3 linked regions of the Homo sapiens genome follow. The protein of the gene in region 1 purifies or fractionates together with the protein of each later gene. This does not show direct contact. Each region holds a gene or a part of one and is shown on either strand. Other genes may lie near its edges.

Evidence for each region.
Region 2: the proteins of ARHGAP1 (region 1) and CCM2 purify together in Homo sapiens (co-immunoprecipitation; one large-scale study listed by IntAct). This does not show direct contact.
Region 3: the proteins of ARHGAP1 (region 1) and RPRD1B fractionate together in Homo sapiens (co-fractionation; one large-scale study listed by BioGRID). This does not show direct contact.

The regions. Positions count from the first base shown.
Region 1 is NC_000011.10:46,680,039-46,683,684, forward strand, and holds part of ARHGAP1 (rho GTPase-activating protein 1), read right to left. Parts: intron 2,145-3,646; coding exon 2,013-2,144; intron 1,342-2,012; coding exon 1,255-1,341; intron 1,072-1,254; coding exon 973-1,071; intron 710-972; coding exon 602-709; intron 526-601; coding exon 449-525; intron 245-448; coding exon 167-244; intron 1-166. UniProt on the Homo sapiens protein: GTPase activator for the Rho, Rac and Cdc42 proteins, converting them to the putatively inactive GDP-bound state. Cdc42 seems to be the preferred substrate.
Region 2 is NC_000007.14:45,069,624-45,073,269, reverse strand, and holds part of CCM2 (cerebral cavernous malformations 2 protein), read right to left. Parts: intron 3,445-3,646; coding exon 3,309-3,444; intron 2,882-3,308; coding exon of another isoform or gene 2,733-2,881; exon of another isoform or gene 1,521-2,732; coding exon of another isoform or gene 1,398-1,520; intron 545-1,397; coding exon 487-544; intron 1-486. UniProt on the Homo sapiens protein: Component of the CCM signaling pathway which is a crucial regulator of heart and vessel formation and integrity. May act through the stabilization of endothelial cell junctions. May function as a scaffold protein for MAP2K3-MAP3K3 signaling.
Region 3 is NC_000020.11:38,085,628-38,089,273, forward strand, and holds part of RPRD1B (regulation of nuclear pre-mRNA domain-containing protein 1B), read left to right. Parts: exon of another isoform or gene 1-19; intron 20-1,069; exon of another isoform or gene 1,070-1,219; intron 1,220-2,235; exon of another isoform or gene 2,236-2,384; intron 2,385-2,481; exon of another isoform or gene 2,482-2,793; intron 2,794-3,646. UniProt on the Homo sapiens protein: Interacts with phosphorylated C-terminal heptapeptide repeat domain (CTD) of the largest RNA polymerase II subunit POLR2A, and participates in dephosphorylation of the CTD by RPAP2. Transcriptional regulator which enhances expression of CCND1.

The sequences.
Region 1 (3,646 bases):
GATGAGGCAGCAGGCCTGGCAGAAGTAGGACTTATGTGACACCCAGAGCCACGGAAACCTCCAGCAGGAAGAGACTCTGAGACTCTCATTTACAGGGCAGCAGAGGGCAGAGAAGCCCCCTACCAGTAACACACATATGGCCCTGCAACAGCCCAGGGCTGCTCACCCATGTTGTACTTCTGCTGCACTTCCCGGACCACTTGGGTGTTGGCCGACCTCCGGAAGATGCCCTCGGTGGTGAGAGCTGGGAAACAGTAGGGCCTGGTGAGCCTCCGAGCGCTGGGCACCGGCTGGATTCCCTGCCCCTTCTCTGTCTTGGGGTTCTAGGCAGGGCTGGGTGGGGACGTTGAGGCTTGCAGGACCTCCCTCTGCCCTGCCCAGCAGCTTCCCCAGCTTCCTGAAGGGAGCCGGGAGACCTGGCTGGTGAGGAGGCAGGCCCGGCACTCACCGTGGGCCTGTAAGTAGGCAACAGTCTCCCTGAGTACAATGGGAATGGGCTCCTGCTCTGGATTCTTCTCCTGGAGGCTGCGGGAAAAAGGCTGGTGAGCCGGGCCTGCAGCCCTTCCCGCCCCGCCGTGGCCCAGCCACCTTTCATACTTACTGCTGCAGCGAGACTCCAAACTGCTGGTTGGGCAGGGGGGGCCGTGGGGGCATGGGCTTGGGGGCTGTCGCGGGGCTCTTCTGTGTGGATTTCAGGAAGTCGTCATATCTGTAGGAGTAGAGGGAGGTGGGTCAGGTCCTGCCTGGCTCTGGAGTCACTCTGCCAATTCAATCAAGCATTGACCACGCGGGGTCAGGAGGATCATCTCATGCGATCTCTGTAACAACTCCGCTTTCCACAGCAGAAAGCAAAGACCTGGGAGAGGTCGGGACACGGGCTTGCTCTGCCTAAGCCCCACGCGGTCTCTGAATCAGGACACACGTCCTCATTACCCTGGCTTCACGAGCCCCCAGCCGCCGCACCCGCCTCACTTGAGCACTTGGCGAGGGATCCCCAGCTGCTCCAGCTTCACGTGCTCGCTCAGCTCGCTCAGGTAATTCACATAGAAGATCTTCTGCCCGAACTTGAAGCTGTTGGTGGAAGAAAGGGCCTGGGTTGTGGGGGCCCGCTTCCGGTGGCCTCCACTCTCCCCTCAACACCCACCCAGTTCAGACGGAAGCCCAGCCGCACCTGGTGGTCCCCAGGCTGCCCAGCCTCCCAGCTTCAGAGTTCCAGGCAAGCCGGGACCACCAGCCCTGCCCGTGGCCACTCACCTGATGAGGGGCTTGAAGAGGATGAGCAGAGTTTTGATGAACATGGTTGGATGCACGATGTACAAGGCCTTGATGTTTTTCTTGTACCTGCAGAGACAGAATGGACAACTCAGGAGCAGGCGTGGTGGGACAGGTGCCACGCTAGGGTCCCAGTGCATACTTTTTTTTTTTGAGACAGAGTCTCCTTCACCCAGGCTGGAGTGTGATCTCAGCTCATTGCAGCCTCCACCTCCCGGATTCAAGCTATTCTCCTGCCTCAGCCTCCTGAGTAACTAGGATTACAGGCACCCACCACCACACCTAGCTAATTTTTGTATTTTTAGCGGAGACAGGGTTTCACCATGTTGGCCAGGCTGGTCTGGAACTCCTGACCTCAAGTGATCCATCCGCCTCAGCTTCCCAAAGTGCTGGGATTACAGGTGTGAGCCACCACACCCTGCCTCAGTGCATATTTTCTGATTTGAACATGCATGGCCAGCATGCGAGGTAAGGGCCATCACTGTCTCATTTTACAGATTAGAAAACAGGAGGCTCAAAGAGGTTAAGTAAAACAAGAGGTCAGAGTGCAAATAAGCTGAGAAACTGGGCCTTACTTAAGCCCAGGGTGATCTGACTGCAGATTCTTTACATTGACGTAGACGGCAGCCCCCGCCACCCCCTGCCTTGGAATAAGCTCCTGCCCAAGTGGAGGGCAGCCCGGAAGCTGGCAGAGCCGCTGCCTCTGGATCTGACTGTGCAGGCCCCATGCCCCAACCCACTTGCGGTCAAACTCCCGGTAGGCATCACGGAGCCAGCTGAGGGAGGGCTTGTTGTCGCTGGTCAGGCCGTGGTGCAGATACAGAAGTGTGTAGTCACTCTCCACGTACTGGTCCAGGGTGTGCTTCAGGTACCTTCCAGGGAAAAGCCCTGCTCAGGCCTGCCCTGTGCACAGGGGCGGCCCCACGAAGACAGAAAGCAGCCCCAAGAGTCTCCCACCACGTCACAGCCCCTTCCCCACAGGCCCTCCCCTAGCACAGTCTGTTCTGGCTCATAATCAGTCACCAGGTTGCTGTGGAGGAGGCCTAGGGTAGAGGCTGGGCAGAGGAATGAGAATAGTAATAACAGCTCTCAGCCGGGCGCAGTGGCTCATGCCTGTAATCCCAACACTTTGGGAGGCCAAGGCGGGTGGATCACCTGAGGTCAGGAGTTCAAGACCAGCCTGGCCAACATGGTGAAACCCCATCTCTACTAAAAATGCAAAAATTAGCCGAGCATGGTGGTGCAGGCCTGTAATCCCAGCTACTCAGGAGGCTGAGGCAGGAGAATCGCTTGAACCCAGGAGGCGGAGGTTTCAGTGAGCAGAGATTGTGGCACTGTACTCCAGCCTGGGCAACAAGAGTGAAACTCTGTCTCAATAATAGTAATAATAATAACAGTTCTCACTCTTGAGCAGGAACTAGATGTCAGGAGACCAGGACCCTAACCCGGGCCTGCCTAGGCCTGCAGTGAAAAGGGGAATGACGTTTCCCCTGAATCAGGGATTTCTCTGAATCAATAATAATGATGACAGTCACCATTTCTCAATATTAAGTTTTTAGTGTCTGCCAAGCACTTCACATACATTAGCTCATACATTGCTTATAACTGAGGCTGATGTAATCCCCATCCTACAAATGAAGGCAATGACCAGAGAGGTCAAGTGCTGATCCAAGGTCACACAGCTTGTGGTAGATCCTGGAAGTGAAGTGTCTAACACCAAAGCCTGCTTTTTTTTTTTTTTTTTTTTTGAGACAGGGTCTTACTGTCACCCAGGCTGGGGCACCGTAGCGCAATCACAGCTCACCGCAGCCTTGACCTCCCAGGCTTAAGCTATCCTCCTGCCTCAGCCTCCTGAGTAGTAGGAACCGCAGGTGTGAGCCACCACACCCGGCTCTTTTTTCTACTTTTTATTTTGTAGAGACAGGTCTCACTATGTTGCCCAGGCTGGTCTTGAGTTCCTGGCCTCAAGCAATCCTCCCACCTCAGCCTCCCAAAGTGCTGGGAGATTACAGGCATGAGTCACTGCACCTGGCCGAAAGCCTGCATTCTTGACCATGGGACAGCTTTGCCTTCTACACATGAACTCCAGTGCCGGCGGTAAAACACTGTGCCCATGAGAGGGGATGGGGTGGCCAGAGAGTCACCTGCTCCAGTCACTGGGCCTTTAGTGGACCAAAGAGCCCCAATTCCTCTGGTTCCCTATTATGCTCATGACACGCTATCTACCAGCTCAGCACAAACATATACACACCTGGTGTTGAGCACACTGAGAGTTATGGATGGAATGAACAAGAACTGGGGAAAGGGAAGGGAGTGTGTGTAAAGCCCTCTCCTTTTTTTTTTTTTTGAGATGGAGTTTTGCTCTTGTTGCCCA
Region 2 (3,646 bases), on another chromosome or scaffold:
TCCCCGGGGGCATGGCTCTGAGTTGGGCTCTGAGTGAAGAGAGGGAGTACACAGGTCAAGGCAGTGGGCAGCATTGTTGGGCAGGGGAAGGAGCCAGGGTTGGGGAGGTGGCAGGAATGGAGAGCGCGAGTGGGTGAACTACTACAGAGCCCCAGGTGGTGGCAGAGATGGGCTGGAAGGCCAGCGCCTCGGCAGGCTCGGGCAGGGGAACAGCTCCATCCAACATGCCTATTACAAGCTCACTCTTGGGAGGCCATGGGAAGGTAGGCAGGGAGAGACAAGAGGGACAGCAAGGGCTCTAGAAGTCTACGAGGAGAGGGCGGCGAGCCAGGCCTCAGCCATTCACTAAGCTGGGTACAGTGGGTCTGGGGATGGCTTAGCGAGGGTGAGCTGAGATGGGGGAGCTGACTGGCTGCAGCCTGGACAACACCAGACAACGCATTTGGTGCGTGTCCCACCGCAGGGCTTGGTGGCATGTGCACTCACAAAGTGCTGGCTTCCACCTCGTAGGTCTCCTTAATGTCCACTTTTGTAGAAGAGTCATCTGTAAGGAAGATGCAGAAAACTAAGATGACTTTCAGGGACATAGTGGGGAGGCATTTTGAGTCCAGCCCACTGCTGTATTTACAGGAGACAGCGGCAGCCCTGGTCTTCAGGGACCCTGCTGTCCTTCATCAAGCTGCCCGCACTCTGGAATGTGCTGTGTGCCTCAGGGCAGGGCTTCCCAGACTTGAGCCCACATACACCCCTCCTGGGGATCCTGGCAAATGCAAATCCTGCTGCACGCTGGGCTGAAGTACACATTCACCCATGGCCAGAGCCAGCAAAAGCTGTCTTTGAGGTATCACTCATGTGCCAGGCAGGGTTACTGGGGCTTTGTCTCCTTTAACCCAGGCATATATCACCCCTGTCTTCACTTGTAGATTAGGAAGTAAGTCAGAGAGTTACACAACTTGGCCCAGGTCACACAGCAGAAACCACAGTCAGAGCCGGGCAGTCTGACTCCCCATCTGAACCCAGTGAAGCCACAGGATTCCCAAGACCCTCAGACCAGCAAAGGGTCTGGCACTGAGCAGCTACATTCAACAAATGACATTAGGTCCGTGTGACACAGACTGTAATTTGCTATTTCAAACCTGAGGAAGGCACATTTCACACCAGCACAGACAGTGAGTGAAAGCTTTGTGAGCGAGGCAGGTGAGTGTTGCAGAGAGGGTAAGATTTTAAATGAAGCAGAGGGAGAGGCTGAGAGATAAAAGGGACATTTCTGGCACTAGGAACAAGGTAAGTATGGAGGGCAGAATAATGACCCCCCAAAGACGTCCACATCCTAATCCCTGGAATTGGTGAATATGTTACCAATTTCAAAGGGGAGTAAAGGATGCTTATCAGCTGACCTTGAAATAGGGAGATGACCCTGGAGAATTTGGGTGGGCTCAATGTGATTGCAAGAGTCCTGAAATGCAGAGGAAGCTGACAGTCAAAGGAAGATGTGACTGTGGAAGAGGTCACGTGGCTGGCTGTGAAGACAGAGGAAGGGCCATGAGCCAAGGCATGCAGCCGCCTTTAGGAGCTGGAAAGACAAGGAAATGGCTTCTTCTCTGGAGCCTCCAGAAGGAACCAGCCCTGTGGACACCTCAACTTTAGCCCAGTGGGACCCACAATGGACTCTTAACGTATAGAATTATAAGAGAATATATTTCTGCTGTTTATGCTGCTATGTTTTGGCATAGCTGTAGTAGAGAGAACACAGCAAGCAAAACTCCAAGGCAGAAATAAGCAGAGAATGCATGCATGTGCGTAACGTGTGCACATCTGTGTGTGGATCCCACGGGGAGGTCTTGGGAAAGGCTGGCAGGGGAAGAAGCCCACTTCAGCAACCCCCAGTAGTGGTGTTACATGATGTGTTTACTTTATGAAAATTCATTCAACTGTACATGTATGACTTGTGTACTTCTCAGTAAAAAAAAAATTATTAAAGAAAAAAAGGCCCTTTGGGAATTTTAAAGCACAAGGGCCAAACCAGTCGCACTAAAACTGAATGTTTAATTACAGCTCGATAAATCATCTGCTACTCATATGGTACATTCCTCTGGATAAGCTGTTGACTTCTAAGCCTCCACTTCCCCATCTCTAAAATGGGGATGAAGATTGCACCTATCTCGCTGGGCCACCGAGGACTAAATGAGATAGAGAGGATGCCTGAGAGCTCAGCAGCTGTCTCTCTGCAGCTGCTGGGCCAACACAAGGCGTGTAGTGCCCACAAAGGGCTCTGGCACCAGCAGCAAGAAAGGGAAGAAGGAGGCACTGAGGAGCAGCCCTCACACCAGCACAGGCTTCTCCACCATTTACTCTCTTCACTGAGATGTGCGAGTTACTGGGGAAAGGGCAGAGGGCTGGGACTTATCTCCGTAAAAAGAAGAAATTGTACTCAACAAGCCGCACTGTTTCCAACAGCCTTTTTTTTTTTCTTGGTATTTTTTAGTAGAGACAGGGTTTCTCCATGTTGGTCAGGCTGGTCTTGAACTCCCGACCTCAGGTGATCCGCCCGCCTCAGCCTCCCAAAGTGCTGGGATTACAGGCATGAGCCACCACACCCAGCCTCCAACAGCTTTTTATGCACCTCAATTTATATAACCCATTAATCCTCAATAAGTAATACATCTGAAAAACAGATGATGTTTTTGAAGACTTAACTCAAGTGAGCTTGCTGATGAAGTGTTTTCAATGGACTAACAGACTCCTGAAAATGCTGTGTGGGCCATGCAGGAAGAGACAGCTCTGGGGTACCTTCCATTCTTCCCCATCTGCCACTGCTCCACCACTGCCAGCTGGCCTCCCAGGGCAGCCTGAGCAGCTTCCCATGGGTCTGGCCATGGTCCTGGAAGGAGTTTCACATTAAGAGCAGCCATAGTCTGGGCATACTGAAAAGGAGGCTCCCCAGACCCACTCTCAGCCTCCCCAATTCCATCACAGGCCCCAGTGCTAGGAGCCTTCTCCAAGCTCTTTGTTCCGAGTTAAGTGAAGTGACTTTAGCCACAAGTGGTTCCAAAAAAGTGTTCACAGACCCCAAATTTATTCCAGGAAGCCATAGCGCTGACCTGGTGCAACTCTCTCAAGGACAGGTGACACTTCTGCCTTCATGAAACCCTATGGGCTAATGTGAACAGCAAAGTCTGGAAACAAAAGGCCACCATGTCACGGCAGTAACTGCGCTATTCCAGGAGTAACTCATGGGGAGCTGGGGGCCACTGCAGTAGCCCCTCCTGTCCCTGCTCCCACCCGCTGCCCACTCTCACTCAACATACCGCTGTGCAGGGACAGGTGGTGGGTCGGGGTAGAGGCCCCATCAAATATCGCTCTGTCCAGAAAGTCGATGGTGGACTCCGTGTAAACAACCTGGAAGACCTGGCCTAGCAGACAGCAAAGCTCCTCCGCAGCGACCTGCAGTGGGGGACAGCAGCTGCTCGGTCAGTCTGGCTGGAGACTGCGCCTTCCCAGGCGGCTTCCAGGATACCTGGGGCAGCCCAGATGCTCAATAAACATGAATGAAGAGTGGATACCAGAATGTGTCCCTCTGCCTTTCACTGACCCAAAGGGGTGTCAAAAGAGAGACCCAGCCAACTGCCCCAGGACTCTATCTAGG
Region 3 (3,646 bases), on another chromosome or scaffold:
TGTGTGAGAAGACAGGCTGGTAAGTTGAGACACGAGATTCTTGGATTTTCCTGAGACCTTTCTCCTTCATCTCTCCAGACCCAAAGAGAATAACCTGGAAAGTCAGCTAGTGAGGGTCTGCAAGACCCAACTGAGAGAGCTTAAGAACCAGAGAATTTGGAGGCAGGTGAAGGCTGGAGTTGTATTTGGGGGAGTTTTGTTTGGAGTCAGTCTTTTTTTTTTTTTTTTTTTTGAGACAGGGTCTCACTCTCACCCAGGCTGGAGTGCAGTGGTGTGATCTTGGCTCACTGCAGTCTCCACCTCCTGGGCTCAAGCAATCTTCCCACCTCAGCCTCCTGAGTAGCTGGAACTATAGGCATGTGCCACCACGCTTGGCTAATTTTGCATTTTTTGTAGATGGGGTTTTGCCATGTTCGGGCACAAGTGATCCACCTGCCTCAGCCTCCCAAAGTGTTGGGATTACAGGCGTGAACCACCTTGTCTAGCCTGGAGTCACTGTTAATTTCTTCTGTTGGTCCATGGCAAGGTTTACAGATGACTTTGTTTGGAAAGCCTGAATCTGTTTTTAAAAGCAGGGATGGGGAGTGGGAAATCACAGTAGTTACTACTTGAGTCTATTTAGTGGACTATAAAAATTACTATAGCTTCAGTTTAACCTAATCAGAGCTTGCCATGAATTCGAGCCTGCTTGCCTCTCTTCAGGAAATTAATCTGGGTCATTTGACTGTCCCAGTTAAGCAGGTACATGTTTTAACAGTTTTAAAGGCAATTGCTGCCTGTATTTGGTTTTTCAGAGTATATACCCGGTTATCCTTGCCAATACATTTAAACCTCTTAGCCTACAGATCTTTTCTTTTTACCAGCCTCAGTGTTTTGTGTTTTTCATTTTTTTGTGGAGACAGGGTCTCTATTTCCCAGGCTGGTCTCGAACTCCTGGCCTCAAGCAGTCTGTCTGCCTCAGCCTCTGAAAGCATTGGGATTAAAGGCGTGAGCCACCATGCCCAGGCCAGCCTTGATGTTTATTAATCCTTTTCAGTGACAGTCTCACTCTCCCTCTTTCTTTCTCTAGTGATTCCTTCCTCTGACGCCTGCTCTTACAATAGGCGTCCCTGCGAGAAGAGTCACCCAGTGGCATCAAGAGCTCTGGGCAGGATCCGTCCACTTCCAGAGTGGCCTGAAGAGTGGAACACATTTCTTTTTAGTTAAATGAGTTTCTTCGGTAATGTCCAGAATATAATAGCCTAAGCATGATGGAATCCCCCGTACCCCACCCTATACCCCCTTCCAAACAGAAACAACTGTTGTTTGGTTTTTTGGGGTTTTTTTTGTTTTTTTGTTTATTTTTTTGACACGGAATTTCACTCTGTTGCCCAGGCTGGAGTGCAGTGACACAATCTCAGCTCACCACAACCTCTGCCCCGCCGGGTTCAAGCAATTCTCCTGCCTCAGCCCCCTGAGTAGCTGCGATTAACAGGCACCCACCACCCTGCCCAGCTAACTTTTGTATTTCTTAGTAGAGATGGAGTTGCACCATGTTGCCCAGGCTGGTCTTGAACTCCTGACCTCAGGTGATCTGCCTGCCTCGGCCTCCCAAAGTGCTGGGATTATAGGCATGAGCCACTGCGCCTGGCCACAACTGGGATTTTTAAGAAATTGCCTAGGAGAGAGTTAGTTGAACTTAAGGTGGTGTCTAATTAGAGCAAAGTGCCTTCCATTTTAACTTCAATGAACTTGCCACGTTGGTCTGATGATAACCCAAGAGTAAGGAGTCTTGGATTCTGATCCCAGCTCAGCTTCTAGAGACTTGGTGGTTTTCAAATTGTTCTTGAGGGACTCCTTCAACTGAAGGGCTCCCTAGTTGCCAAGAGTGGTTGGTTCTGAGTCGAGGTGGCTTTGATTTGTCAGCTTTGGTCAGAGAATTCAGGCAGGGGGCAGGAAGTCCGTGTTCTGTAGTTGTTTTGTTATTTTACCCTTTTTATACCTTCCATTCAGGAGAAGTTTATTAGATGAATCCGTGTCCAGAAATAGAGAATTAGTTGCCTTCATCCTTTATATTAATTTCCCTTGAAGTATAAACAGCCAAAGAAGAAAAGTACTTGTGGGAGAAAGGGGGTTCAGATCCTCAAATTTGAAAATAGTTTTCAACTTCAGGAACGTGAAAGGTGACTGTTAACCAAAGTCTGAGTCTCAGGAGCTACTTCATGTGGTATGCTTTTACCTGATGTTATGTTTTAGATATGGCTCATTCATTCGGCACATGTGCTGGGTGCCTACTGTTTGCTGGACACTGCGGAGCCTGGTGGATGCTGGGGGAAGCAGATGGGTCTGGTCCTGGCCTCCAGGAGCTTACTAGTTAAATGTGGGAGTCATTGCTAATCATTTACGTAAGTCATTGTTTAATTTTAGTTGTGGTAAGTTTACAAAGAAAAGAAATGGGCTGCTAGGAGAGCTCACTCTCTACCCTTTTCTCTTCCTTTGTAGACTGTGTGAGGAGCTCTCATTGCGGGTGGGAGACTGATTGCCTGCAGTAATGGGGAGAGGATATGCCTGGTTCCCTCCTCTCACTCCTTGCTTGGACTTTTGTCTTTACAACTTGAACTAAGTATTCTCCATTTGACCTTTTTCCTGCCTCATTATTCTTCCCAGACATTCTCTAGCTTCTACTTTCTGCCTCTTCAGGTGTGCATCAGGGATCTGGTATCAAGGAATTTAGAACTTGAAAAGAAGTGTTATGGTCCAGTTCCCTCACTTTCAGATATGGAAGAAGGGAACACATCCACGGTCACACAGCAGGTTAGAGGCAGAACCAGGACCAAGCCTAGGTCTCTGCATCTCAGCCCAGGGCTTCTTGTTACATTCCTGCAGGAAGGGCTTTCTAAGTCAGCAGGGGCCCAGCGTCAGGGACCTACTTACCCTTGCAGAGACACTGAGAGGACAAAAACTAAGCCCCAAGGGGGCCAACAGCCCCAGACTTCACATGGCCTAGGGTTGTTTTCTATATATCTTGGCAGATTTATCAAGAGTACCTTTTTCCGGGAGCTGAGGAAAGAAAAAAAATATGCCCCATTCCTATCATTAGGGGATTCATATTCTAGAGGAACATAGAAGTCTCACATGTATGGAGAGAGCATAGAGCAGCTTGCTAGGGGCTCAGGTACACACCCTGTGTGAGGGAGAGCTCTGGAGCAGGAGGAGATGCGGAGTCGTCTCCTGGATGCAGAGCAAGGATTTTCCTAGAGAGGTGGAGTCCAGATAGTCCAAGGAGCAGAGGAGTGGAGGCCAGGCTTTGCTAGGGCTAGGAGAAGAGAGAGACCCCCTCCAGGCTTGCGGGGAATCCTGAAAAAATGGTCCACACAGACAAAGAGGGTTAGGAGGTTGTGAGGCAGGGGCTGATTTTGTAAGACCTTGAACTCTGCTCTGAAGGACCAGATCATGGAGCTAGTGGGGTGCCGTGCCTCACTTTCTCAAGGGAGTGGTTTCATGAAAGCTGGGCTTTTGGGAGAGAAGTCTGGTGGCATTTTAGGAGCCCTAGGGGTCAGGAGGCCTAACCAGGGACTTACTGCAGTGACTCAGTTATGGAATGAGGAGGCCCTGGTCACAGGGAGTAGCAGTGGGGTATTTTGAGCTTCTATAGTGCTTGTTTGCA